2 linked regions of the Homo sapiens genome follow. The protein of the gene in region 1 interacts with the protein of each later gene in a pairwise test. Each region holds a gene or a part of one and is shown in the gene's direction. Other genes may lie near its edges.

Evidence for each region. The genes of interacting proteins can lie anywhere in the genome.
Region 2: the proteins of DISC1 (region 1) and SPTBN1 interact in binary tests that used the Homo sapiens proteins (3 or more experiments, as listed by UniProt).

Annotation. Positions count from the first base shown.
Region 1 is NC_000001.11:231,633,196-231,636,850, forward strand, and holds part of DISC1 (disrupted in schizophrenia 1 protein), read left to right. Parts: intron 1-3,655. UniProt on the Homo sapiens protein: Involved in the regulation of multiple aspects of embryonic and adult neurogenesis. Required for neural progenitor proliferation in the ventrical/subventrical zone during embryonic brain development and in the adult dentate gyrus of the hippocampus.
Region 2 is NC_000002.12:54,630,778-54,634,432, forward strand, and holds part of SPTBN1 (spectrin beta chain, non-erythrocytic 1), read left to right. Parts: intron 1-77; coding exon 78-834; intron 835-1,788; coding exon 1,789-1,991; intron 1,992-3,655. UniProt on the Homo sapiens protein: Fodrin, which seems to be involved in secretion, interacts with calmodulin in a calcium-dependent manner and is thus candidate for the calcium-dependent movement of the cytoskeleton at the membrane.

The DNA of each region.
Region 1 (3,655 bases):
GTGGCTACTTGGTTCAGAATTAGAATTAGCATGACAGCCACACATTAGAAAGGTATCACTTTTTGACTAAATTAAAAACTTGCTAAAAATAGTTATCCATTGATGGAATAGGCTACCCCGAAAGGCAGAGAGCATTTTGTCATTGGAAGTATGTAGGGCAGTGTGGATGACTCTAGGGTGACTGTCATGAGGGTTCTGCACTGGGGAGGGGGCTGCGTTGGATGATGAATGGGAACCCTTCCAGTGCTAAGATGCTGTGATCGTTGTCCTGCAGGATTGGGATTGTGCAGGATTTGAGCTACTGTGTAAATTTCCTATTCCCTGCTCATTGGGCTTCCACATTTTGCTTCCTTCCCTTGCCCAGGTGGTTCCATTTCAGGAAGCCTAGATAGCTTCTTTGCAGTCATCTGCCCGAATGTCGTAGCTACTTTAACTCCCCAGAGCTGTACATGTCTAGGATTGATATTGATCATTAACACAATTATGTTCGCCCAGATGAACAAATCTACCAGGAGTAGAAACGTGCATTTGACAGGTGGCCTTGCATGGAGACTAATCGCTTTCACAGGTTGAAAGGTGAAATATCTAAAGTTTAATGAGTAAGTTGTGTCCTGAATGTGGAATCTGAGTTGAAATTGCATTTTGTGACATGTACGCCTACCTAACTTTTCTTTTTCATACCTGTCATCTTTTTTTTTTTTTTTTTGAAACGGAGTCTTGCTCTGTAGCCCAGGCTGGAGTGCAGTGGCGCAGTCTTGGCTCACTGCAACCTCCGCCTCCCAGGTTCAAGCAATTCTTCTGCCTCAGCCTCCCAAGTACCTGGGATTACAGGCATGCCCCACCACGTGCAGCTAATTTTTGTATTTTTAGTAGAGACAGAGTTTCACCATGTCGGCCAGGCTGGTCTTGAGCTCCTAAACTCAAGTGATCCGCCTGCCTCGGCTTCTCAAAGTGCTGGGATTACAGGAGTGAGCCACCGCGCCTGGCCTGTACCTGTCATCTCTTGGTTTGTGAGTGGATTGATTATTGGACTTTATTTTTAACACAGGAGAATGTGCGTGTTTTGCATTTGTAGTGAAAGCATGCCTCATCTTACTCCAACACTGATAGGAAAAGGAAGATTATTTTACAATGGTCAAGTGAAAAAAAAAGTAAATACAGAGATAAAACGGGGTTCTAATATTTCTGCTACACTGGAAACTTAGAGTTGCAAGAGCTGTTTTGGGATCACAAATCTTCTGAAGAAAAAAAGTTTGCGTATTTCAGTACAAGTCTTAATGTTTCCCTAGCGTCTTGTGTTATAGCTGCAGGCCAAGCAAAATGAAATGTGAGACACTGTCCTTGGGGATAGAGCATCTGTATTCAATTTAAACAGTAGATTTGGGGGCCTTAAATTGCCTCGACTCTATTAATCATTTTGTGTTCCTTAGTTTATAGAATTATCTCCTAGAGACATTAACTTATCCATTAATTTCTTCCATTGTGTTTATTTATTCATTCACAAACACTAGCACCTACTGTATACACAGTACAGTGTTGTACATTGCAGGGTACTTAAAAATGTAGAGTGCCAGGCATGGTGGTGCATGCCTATAGTCCCAGCTCCTTGGAAGGCTGGGGCGGGAGGATTGCTTGAGGCCAGGAGTTCAAGGTGGCAGTGCGCTATGCTTGTGCCTACAAATAGCCACTGCACTCCAGCCTGGACAACATAGCAAGACCCTGTCTCAAAAAAAAAATGAAAAAACTCCCCCAAAACCAAAAATGTAGATTGTTCTCAAGGGCCATCCAGTCTAGAGAGAACTAAGGGAGCCTGGTATTCTTAGGCCTTAGAGCTTAACAGCCACACCTAGGATGCCTCTTCAGAAGGTGTTCCAGCCCTTCCTGTGTCTTCCCAGTTCTGATACTGGATTATGTCATTATGTCTCTGTTGAGTAACTCCTTCCAATCAGGCCTGCACACTGCTGCCAGGACAGTCCTCACAAAGCACAGATCTGATTGGGTTATTGTTCCTCTGTGGAAGGGGCTTTCAGAGACTCATTATCTCCCCCCAAGCAAATTCTTAGCATCTCTTTTCAAGCTTTCCATACACTGGCCCTTAAACACTTAAAACGGACACTCTGGCCTTTTTATTATGCACATTATTCTGCCCACCGAGAATATTACAGAATCCGTCTTTCTTGCTCCCAATCTGAACGCATCAAAATGTCATCCCTCATTTACCACCTAGCAAATCAATAATGCTTCTCAGCCTTCCCTGGTTCTCTGGAATCGTCTGCTCTCTCCTTCTTCTGTTATAGTTTGTTATGGATATAACCTGTTTTTCTGACTCCAATGTAGACTTCTTCAACTCAAGGTTTCAGTTCTGGTTTATCTCCTTACTCCCTCATCTATGTAGTACACTTATGGTTTACTCTGTTCTCACTGGATTAGACCAAACTCTTAATTATATTTAGGATGTATTAATCCAATGCATAGATTAACCAAGTCTATTATTTTTATATCTTTTGAAACCAATCAGGAGTTTCAGAAGTTCAGTTCAGTTTAAATATTTATTGAGATGCATACACTATATAGTCAGATACTATGATAGCTCTTGAATATAAAAAATATATATACTTATGTTTGTATATATATGTGTAAATTGATATGTAAATTCAAATAGATAGTGTTGTCTACACCATTGAGAAGCCTATAGTCCCGTGGAAAAAAGAGAATTCATTCTCATGAAGTTTCCGGATATTGTTTCATCAGAAGGACTGGGCACATCGGGGTGTACTAAAATCATTAAGAAGTATTTAGCACCAGTAGATGCCTAATAAATACCTTACAGTCTAGATGGATGGATAGATGGAGGAAGAAAGAAGGGCTCCTTTAATTTATAATTTACCTATTGCTGGGTTTACTCCTAGGTATGACAATTTTGAAAACAATTTACTCAATGTTTATTTCCACACTGTGTATGAAATATGCTGCTCTTCATTCAGAAAGAGATATATAATTCTCCATTTGTAGAACACTGAGTTAATTTCATGGTTGTGATGTTGCTTTTGCTTACTTTCACCCACATTTTCTCCTCTGTAGGGTGGCAGCTCCGTAGGGTGGACACACGCTTTGGGAGACCTGCAGCTGTTTGTGTCTGGGGGCAATGGTGAAGGGCAGTGACTCATTGGCCCAGAACTCATGATCTCATCTCTCACCCAGCTGGCTAATCGGCCTTGGGGACAGGAGGATGAGCGCTGCACTCCCTCCTAATCATGCAGCTTTTGTATGTCTTTCTTTACTTGACTTAAATTGTAATTTGAATGGAAAAATGGACAAATTCTATCATTTGAATTTAACTTTTATATATTTTCTTGACTCTGATTTGGGATTATCTAAGTGCATTTATTCAAATATTTATTGTGTTTTTGAAACTTTTTTTGAAAAGCATAAGGTAATACATGATAAAAGATATTGTTATTACCCCTGTTTCTGCCATTTCAAGGAGTCAGAACAGGCTCAGTGGAAACAAAATGAGATGTCTTATGGGAGTTACTTTCCCTTCAGCTAATCTTGGTATGAATTTATATTGACACTACCTTTAAAATTTTATTCTGCTTTTTAAATTTTACTTTAAGTTCTGGGATACATGTGCAGAACATGCAGGTTTGTTACA
Region 2 (3,655 bases), on another chromosome or scaffold:
CATCACTGTTCCTTTTGCAATCCAGCCATGGTCAGTCTTCCCTTTTTCACACTCGCTGTCTGCCCCTGCACTCACAGGTGGAGCCAGTTCAGAGAACTGGTTGACAGGAAGAAGGATGCCCTCCTGTCTGCCCTGAGCATCCAGAACTACCACCTCGAGTGCAATGAAACCAAATCCTGGATTCGGGAAAAGACCAAGGTCATCGAGTCCACCCAGGACCTGGGCAATGACCTGGCTGGCGTCATGGCCCTGCAGCGCAAGCTGACCGGCATGGAGCGGGACTTGGTGGCCATTGAGGCAAAGCTGAGTGACCTGCAGAAGGAGGCGGAGAAGCTGGAGTCCGAGCACCCCGACCAGGCCCAGGCCATCCTGTCTCGGCTGGCCGAGATCAGCGACGTGTGGGAGGAGATGAAGACCACCCTGAAAAACCGAGAGGCCTCCCTGGGAGAGGCCAGCAAGCTGCAGCAGTTCCTACGGGACTTGGACGACTTCCAGTCCTGGCTCTCTAGGACCCAGACAGCGATCGCCTCGGAGGACATGCCAAACACCCTGACCGAGGCTGAGAAGCTGCTCACGCAGCACGAGAACATCAAGAACGAGATCGACAACTACGAGGAGGACTACCAGAAGATGAGGGACATGGGCGAGATGGTCACCCAGGGGCAGACCGATGCCCAGTACATGTTTCTGCGGCAGCGGCTGCAGGCCCTGGACACTGGATGGAACGAGCTCCACAAGATGTGGGAGAACAGACAAAATCTCCTATCCCAGTCACATGCCTACCAGCAGTTCCTCAGAGACACGAAGCAAGCCGAAGCCTTTCTTAACAACCAGGTAAGGTTTGTTCCTGCCTTTGCTTCCTTTCGGTGAAAGCAGCCCTGGCTGCCTTTTGAAATGTTTTGGCTGGGGCAGCTGGTTTAAACCACACCTGTATGGAATTATATGGATAATTTAGAGACTGATTTTTTTTTCCCCATACTCTTAAGGCATTGAAATCCATCACGTTGTAGGGGACAGGAATTGAAAGTTGCCATAAGAGCTGCTTTGCCTTACAAAGTACTGTTTGATTTCAACTGCCATTGAGGATCTCTTATGTGTTCATAGTATGTCTTCATAATTGAGGTATTGATCCAATTTAAAAGATACAGTGAGGGCCAGGCATGATGACTCACTCCTGTAATCCCAGCTCTTGGGGAGGCTGGGACAGGAGAATCACTTGAGCCCAGCAGGTCAAGGGTGAAGTTAGCCGTGATCGTGCCACTGCACTCCAGCCTGGTGGCAGGGTGAGACCCTGTCTCTTAAAAAAAAAAAAAAAAAAAAAGTACGGTGAGGATTTTTTTTTTTCTTGAGACCAGTCTGTCTTCTTGCTCTAGAAGGGTCAGGGACTTCACCTGAGGACACAAAGTAGAGATTAGAGAAATAAAAACAGCTGAGGATAGTCACCAACTTCAGGGCTGTTACTGTCTCAAAGAGAGAGTATGAAGGGTACATTGCTGTTGCCTTGATAGGCACGTGAGAGGACCCTTGAGGCTGATACACAAAGCTTTGGTTCCTTTCCTCACTCTCTTTGGAAAAAAAAATTTAGAGCATTAACCCCTGAGGGAAATTCGGTCAGTTACAGTGTCCCACTGGGTTTTTTTCCTCCTAACTTTTAATTTGATGTGATTTAATTATTTCATGTAAGTGTAATGAAGAAAGTGTTGTGAACTATGTTGCACGGAAATGTAGAACACAGGAAAATGAGATCCTTCATTGATCTGCTATGATTTGTTCCTCTTTTTAAATAAGGAGTATGTTCTGGCTCACACTGAAATGCCTACCACCTTGGAAGGAGCTGAAGCAGCAATTAAAAAGCAAGAGGACTTCATGACCACCATGGACGCCAATGAGGAGAAGATCAATGCTGTGGTGGAGACTGGCCGGAGGCTGGTGAGCGATGGGAACATCAACTCAGATCGCATCCAGGAGAAGGTGGACTCTATTGATGACAGGTACAGTTTTCTGAGGTTCTTAAGGGAGCCTTGCACCTTGGGGCTCTCAAACTTCTGAATCATTGGCCAGAAGCCCTTGGGAGTTTAGGTATAAATTTCCCAGTGGGCAGAATATGGGTGCCCAGCAGAAGTTCATCTACCCATACAGAAAATTAGTGAGCTGTGCATGACTGCCTGAGAATGTGGGTCTGGTGAGACATGTACAAGTGTCCACAAAAGGAAAGAAAGCCTGAGAAGCCAAGCTAATTCTTAACCGAGGACCTGTAAGAGCCGTAGTGCTGCATCGCGATCAGGTGTAAGCCATGCCCTTTGAGGATTAACACACGCTTGTGTCACCTGATAGGACCCCTGGCGCCAGGTATTCCCAGCCAAGCCCGTGTTCCCCTTCATCCATGAGAAAGAAGCCTGTCAGGAGAGTGGGAAGGGAGGGTGAAGCTTGCTTGTTCTGAGTACCTGGCAAAGCTACAAAGGAACATTACCTGGACTTTTTTAGAAAATTGGCTTGGATAGTGCTGTAATAGGATCTTTTTCATGATGGAGAGGTAAATAAGAGCAAAGGTTATTTTCCTCTTCTGCCAGGGCATCTCCAGGATTGGATACACTTTCTTCATTTCTTGTTTAAAATTATTTTTTTATTTACGTGTGTGTGTGTGTGTGCGTGTGTGTGTCTGTCTGTCTGTCTGAAAGATTTCCTCCCCGGCTGGAGGCCAGTGGACTCTGTTTGACCCTAACTCTTTGACTCACTCCTTACTCTTGCCTTGCCCCGGTTACTTAAGTTGGAGGTTGGGGCAGATCAGGGGTTGGATGCACTAGCACAGGCCAGTCTGGGCCAGCCACTGGATCAATCACTAGCCCCTGTTCCAGTTTGGGTTGAATTTAAGGGCTTGCTGTGAGACTGATGTAATCAAAAAACAAGCCCTTCCTTTCTGCCTCTCTTCTGGCCTTCAAGTGTGTTGGAAAGGAAAAATATTCCTTTGCTTACCACATCTGAGAGGGTTTCCTGGGACCCCTGGTCAGGTTGACTTAAAATAAGATGGGTGGAGAGGGGATTACTCTGTTTCCAATAAAGATTGAGCTCCTGTCTTTACCACTTCCAATCTTTTTTTCTGAGCTGATTCCCAGGCTGAACTATATGTTCTAGGGTGGTATTGTGGAATAGAGAATAACTTATGTTAATTATAATTTTGTATCTGTTGCTTTTAAAACAGCTGCAAAAAAGAAAAATAAATCCACCAAACCCTCCTTAAATGAGCATGAGAAACAGCAATTGGGCAAAGCATTCATAACCTAGGGAAAAAGAATTTCCTTTTTTTGTAATATTAACTCTGAGTATTTTGTAAATAAGATATCCTATGTACTTCCATGTTAGATGCACACAGCTGGTTTCCTGCAGGCGGGCTTGGCTGTTAGGGATGTGTGCATTCAGGCAGGCATGCAGCTGCCTTGCTGCTTCCTCGGTTTCTTTTTATGTCCCCAGTGCTGCAACTGCACAAAGCTGTTGGAAGCAGATGATGCTGTCTAGACTCCTGGATATGATAAAACGTTTCAGCAGCAGCAGCCCTCAGTTGTGGCTTAACCTTCATTTTGCCCTTGACCAAGAGCCTGGGCTACTGGTGTTCCAGAGCTTCCTTAGGATTCCTCAGTTTTAAAAATGAAACGTAAAG